Regions from separate parts of the Homo sapiens genome. Here region 2 is linked to region 1. Evidence: fine-mapped QTL for protein levels in blood plasma. Region 1 holds a variant in brackets. A gene starts in the other region. All regions are shown on their reverse strands. Region 1 overlaps MAU2 (MAU2 sister chromatid cohesion factor). Region 2 holds the start of HSD11B1 (hydroxysteroid 11-beta dehydrogenase 1).

Evidence for each region. A credible set is the group of variants that fine-mapping cannot tell apart. PIP is the posterior inclusion probability: the model's chance that the variant is causal. The UK Biobank Pharma Proteomics Project read protein levels with antibody pairs (Olink). The fine-mapping took linkage between variants from a reference panel, not from the people measured, so its PIPs are less certain.
Region 2: HSD11B1 starts here. The variant in region 1 is the best candidate, but not a certain one, in a credible set for the plasma level of the HSD11B1 protein (UK Biobank, PIP 0.52).

What each region holds. Positions count from the first base shown.
Region 1 is chr19:19,345,926-19,348,836 of GRCh38, reverse strand. MAU2 (MAU2 sister chromatid cohesion factor) reads right to left here. Exons shown (of 19, transcript NM_015329.4): 13 at 1,471-1,557. Among named protein-coding and RNA genes, the nearest start is that of MAU2, 27 kb to the right of the region's middle. The variant T/C (reference allele first, on the strand shown) is at 1,258.
Region 2 is chr1:209,702,589-209,705,499 of GRCh38, reverse strand. HSD11B1 (hydroxysteroid 11-beta dehydrogenase 1) reads right to left here and starts at 654. Exons shown (of 6, transcript NM_005525.4): 1 at 470-654. The coding sequence starts at 557. The region is part of intron 1 of HSD11B1-AS1 (HSD11B1 antisense RNA 1); the gene reads left to right.

The DNA.
Region 1 (2,911 bases):
TCCCCAAGACACACTGCAGTGCATGGGAATTTCTCTACACCCCCGTCGGGACTGTGGCCTCCAGGCTGAGCCTGGTGACTGACCAGCAAGAGCAGCCTCTGGTGAGAAGGGCCGGGGGCAAGATTTCCACACCCTCAGCCAGCCCTGCCTGTGCCACCCTGTCCTGCAGTAGGTGACAGGGGCCTGGGCGTCCAGAAGGCCTTTGTATGGTCAGAGTGGTGCTGAGGGGCTGGCCTGGCAGTGGGTAGGTTGGCAGGCTGGGGCCCGTGAGCCCTGTGGGCTGTGGGGGTGAGTGGGTGGGATTTCTCTGGAGGTGCAGGGACCCCGGGAGGCTCTGATGGGGGCGTGATCTGACTGATAATTTAGCTGCCCTCTAGCTGCAGAGGCACAGGGGAGCCAAACTCCTCCTCAACACTGCGAGCCCACGTATGGCATCGGATGACTAAGCCGGGGCTGGGCTTTCTTTTTCCTTTGAGACAGGTTCTTGCTCTGTCGCCCAGGCTGGAGTGCAGTGGCTGGATCATGGCTCACTGCAGCCCTCAATCTCCCTAGCTCAAGCAATCCTCCTGCCTCAGTCTCCCGAGTAGTTGGGACCACAGGCCTGCACCCCACCAAGTTTTTAAAAAATTTTTTTGTAGAAATGGGGGTCTCCCTATGTTGCCCAGGCTGGTCTTGAACTCCTGACCTCAAGTGATCCTCCTGCCTTGCTTCCCAAAGTGCTGGGATTACAGGTGTGAGCCAAGCACCTGGCCTGATACACTTTGGAGGTAGACCCCCAGAGGTGAAGGAGATACTAGAACTGAGGGACATCCTAGGGCTGAGGGGGATCCCAGGGCTGAGTGGGCATCCCAGGGCTGAGGAGGGAATCCCAGAGCTGAGGGGGATCCCAGGGCTGAGGAGGGGATCCCGGGGCTGAGGAGGGGATCCCGGGGCTGAGGGGGATCCCAGGGCTGAGTGGGGATCCCAGGGCTAAAAGGGACAGAAGAGGGAACCTAACTCTTATGCAAGCATTGGTTCAGAAGCGCCACGTGAGGGCAACCCTGGGCATCCCCACCCAACACTGCAGCCAGTGAGTGCCCCTGATCCTGCAGGGGCATCAGCACAACCTGGGGACAAGGTGCTCTGGCTGCTGCCCCTTAGGACTGAGCCTCAATGCCTGGCCGACATCCTAGAGCAGACAGCTTGGGCTATAAGACCTTGTCTGTGTGATTCATACAGCTTGGTTTGTTTGTGATAAAGAGAAGTGTTCTGTGGCTA[T/C]GGGAATGTTTTTGTCCCAGACCTGGCCTCCCCCGGCCATAGCCCGATTCACCTCTGGGTCGCCTTGTGTGTCTGTGTCGGGTGCCGCCCATCCCTCAAAAGGTGAACACCCTGGGGTCTGCTGAGATGTGCTGGTGCCCAGGACAACCCCCTGGTTCCCCAAAAAGAAGAGAACAGAGAGAAAGGATACCGAACATGAAGCATGTCACCTACTACCTCTTGGTGTCTATTTCCTTCCCGTATATACACACTCGCCAGGTTGGTGACGATGAAGGCCCACAGCTCCTGGTGGTTGGTGAGCTGGAATGGGAGGCGGGGACATTAGGGGGCTGGGTCGGGTGCTGTGACCCATGTGGCAGTGTCAGAGCACCCACAATCTCCACGGAGACTACTTTGGAAAAGACTTGTTCTTTTCATTTCAAACACACTTGTTTTGCCTCCTAAGCTCAAGGATAACACAGCTATTACTTCTTCTCATTATAAAACCATCATCTGCGTTACGGGGCAGTTAGAGAACACAGAAGAGGAAAACCAGCCACCCCAATCCTACCCTCAGAACATGTCGGGTTTTGGTCCATTTTCCACTGTCTCTCAGGACTGAGACCTGGTGGACCCTTCCTCCAGGCCACAGCCAGCAACCTGTGGGACCCAGGTGTCCACTGCCATCAAGGCATATGCTGGTCCTAGGCGGGGGTCACTCTTCATAGGGGGAAGTGGGGAAGAGGGGAGCTGTTGTCCCACAGGGGGCCAGCACAGGCCCCGCTCCAGGTAGGTGATGCTGTGTCAGAGACCAGAAATGCTGCTGATGACAGGTGGTGGATGGGCCATGGTCCCTGGCTCTTCTTGGCAAATGAGATCGTTCGTCAAGAGAGGGTCCAATCTATGTAGCTCAAGCCCTGCTCAGACCCTGGTTCCCAGTGGGGCTGGGCAAGAGGTGGAGTGAGCCCAGGAAGCACAGACCCCACCTGCACAGATCCCCTCCTGGCACACACCCAGGAGGCCCAGAGGATCTTCCGAATCAAGCACAGATGCTCTGAGACGTAGCAAGGTGGGAGATGTTTGTTTCAGGGCCACAGGAGGCGTGTGTGTTTGGGGTTAGGGGTGTTGGGGTTGCATCCTGGCTCCATCACTCCTGGGTGGGCCATGAAAAAGAGGCTCTCTTTTGGCCTCGGGGTGAGGACTCCTTAGGGTACATGGCCTTGGGAACTTTGACGCGGAACCAAACCAGCAATAGCAACCACTTGTGGGGAGTGAGACGGAGACGGAGATGGCAGGATGGCAGGGCCACGAGGAGGGTCCTGGCCCTGCTGCAGTCAGAGTGAGCCAGGGTCCTGGGAGCGAGGTGAGGAGGCAGAGGAGTGGGTGCTGAGTCAGCCCTTCCCTCCCAAGCATGCTGTCTGCATGTCAGGGCTCCTGTGCATCTCTGAGGCCAGTGGCGGGGGTGGCAGCACCCACAGGCCTGCGGGGTGCCGTGGAATGGGAACCCTGTCCAACAGTCAGGGCGCACACAGGACTCCCTGGTGACCTTGCCCGAGTGGCAGACAGAGCAGCCTCTGCTCCCTGACACCTCTCCTCAGGGCCCTTCCTGGCACCACCAGGAAAAAGGTGTCCACAGCCTCCATTTCCTGTGAGGAGGTTGAGGCTGAGGTGGGGA
Region 2 (2,911 bases), not on the chromosome of region 1:
CTTTCAATTTTGCTCAATTGAAAGTACATTTAACAAGGAATCAAAACACATGTGTTCATAGAAATTCCAGGGATTTTCCCTCACTTCTATGTAGTCATCATCTCCAGTTTTTTTTTTTTTTTTTTTTGCCTCCCACTTATCAGTCTCTTCATAGAGCCCAATTAGCTGCTGAGTTGTGAATTTGGGTATTACTCTCATTTTTGTAGAAGATTTGAAACTGCTTTCCATTAAGGGTGCCAAATAAAGCATGGCCTATTTGGCTAGATTTTGGCTACACGATTACCCTTCCTACACAGTCCCCCCTGTCCACAGCCTGTAGCTGGAGGACACAAAAATACCATCTTAACTCAGGGTTCCCTCATTTTCACCAACTTTGAGGATCAAGAACACATCTTGGTCCTCAGGAACACTCAAGCACCCCTGTGTTTTTTAAACCTATTCCTCCAAAATGAGACGCATGGGTACTTACCTGGTCTGAATTCCTCGTTTGCAGAATAGTAGTAGTAGGCCATGAAGAGCCCCAGAATGGGGAGGAGATATTTTTTCATAAAAGCCATCCGACAGGGAGCTGGCCTGAAGACTCCTGTAGGACACACAGAGAGAACCTACAGAGCTTTCTACAACCTCCTAAGCAGGCAGCAGCCTCTGAATTGTGACATCAGGGACGGGGGAGGCTGGAGTAGTCTCAGGCAGTGCTAGCCAATTTCCCTGTCAGAGCAGCGATTGGCTTTGGGTGGGATCCCATTCGTCCCTGGCAGCCTGTGTGGTGGATTTCATAATGGACAATGTTTACTCCATTTCATTGAGCAAGAGGAGACTTCCAGATGGCCAAGCTCATGACTGTACAGGACTGGATTCCTGAGCATCCCTACCCGAGTCCATCTTACTCTTAACACCATTTACGCCAGGGATCAATGATCTTTCAAAAGTAATTTGTCAAAGACAGAGAGAGAGGAGTGCATGTAGGGCTTCTGGGGGGAAATGTGAGTAATAGCAAAGAGAGCCAAACTCAAGCCAAATCTCACTCTCAGTCCCCCTACCCCCCCACCCAGTGGGAAGCAATTAAAAATAACAGCACAAAACAGCAAAATAAGCTTAAGAAAAAAAATGTGCACATTTTGGGAAAAAATAATGAAAGCAAAGAAGCTCTATAAGCCCCACACTCAAGTTCAATGAAAAAGTATTACAACATCAAAGGAGAAATTGCAAGCCAGCCAGAACCCAGATGGCGGGAAATCCAAGACTGGTTCAAGACTCTAAGGCAAGTGCAATGGATCATACACTTATTATTTTAACAGAGAACAAAGAAGAAATAATGAGTGACAAAAAAGGCACTAAACTATTAAACTGGGTCTTGTAAATGCTGTAGAGCAACAAGAAACATGGAGAAGATGCTAGGAAGAGGCGACCTGATGTAGAAGAAAAAAGAACTAGCATTAGGCAAGTGAAACTAGCTGGGGACGCCCACACCAGCTAAAAATAGATCTAGTAACAGTAAAAGGACGAGGGTGGTAAGAAACCCTTAGCAATTTAGAATTTATTATCAGGGAAATATAAAAATAACCACCTCAGTATGTCCGTAGCACGAATTCATTAAGGAATAATCCTCAAAGAAAGAATTTAAGATGTATCATTGTTAAGTTTTTCAACTCAAAACCAACCAATCAACTCATGGAAATTACCCCATCACAATGCAGTCCTGCATTCTGTAAGTTATCAGTAGAGCGGGGAAAAAATTTAAATGTGATAATAAGTATCAGTGCTTTGGAGGAGGGATAGGAGTTGGGAGTAGTGGGGGGACAGAATTTACACAAGGTTAAGGGAAATTAAGTTATGATTCCAAGTGCAGTATCTGGAAACATTCATCAAATTTTCACTTTAGAGTAAGAGAAAATAATTTAAGACCCAGAGGAGATGAAACAATTTGTCAACAAAGGCCCACAGCTGTGAGGGTCACTTGTAGAAAACAATGGAGATTTGAGAACAGTTGAGGGCTAGACAGAGCTCGAGGTCTATGAAGGACAAAAAGAGAAAAAAGATAAAATTCAAGTAAAAATTAGATTACATGCCTTTAGAACTGCAAGCTACATTTGTATAATTTTATAAATATATTTATGATACCAGGATATATTACAGACTACACTCCATTTTCATCCCTAGAGGGAAGGCAGTGCCAGCCAGAACCCAGATAAGGTTTATTTTCTTAATCCTATACTATTAATAGTAAAATTATAGGAAACAATGAAAAGTTATTTGGAAATATGATGATGTTGAAATGATAGAAAGATGGGCAGACTAGGGATGTTTATTGTCTGACATAAAAAATAAATAAAGAATTTTAAAGTCCATTAAGAAAACATAAATTTAAAGAAAGCAAAAATAACAATGAGTAAGATAAACTGCAGAGTAATAGAACACAAAGCAAATGCATTAACAATTGCTGATTGTTGGCTCCATTAAAAAATGAAGTCCAACATTGTGTGGCCTCAAAAGACACATTTAAACCCAAAGACACAAACAGATTAATAATTAGATGACCTAATAGCTACGATGCTAGAAAATAAGGATATGGCAAAAGCATCCAATAAAGTGAGTTTCATGGGATTAGATAAAATAATTGCTATATAAAATGCATTGATGAGAAACAAGGACACTGTGTAATGGTAGTTGATGCATTAAATCTTACCAGTTCTCAAATTTTTGGTCTCAGGACCCTTGTATACTCTTAATAATTTCCAAGGACCTCAAAGAACTTTTGCCTGTGTAGGTTTTACCTATTGATATTGCTATTGCAATTTATGCATTAGAAATTAAGACTGAGGATTTTTTTCTAAAGCTCAAGAATACATAAGCATACATTCCATTAGCATTCAGGGCAGTGGCATTAGCATACATCCTGTAGCCTCTGGAA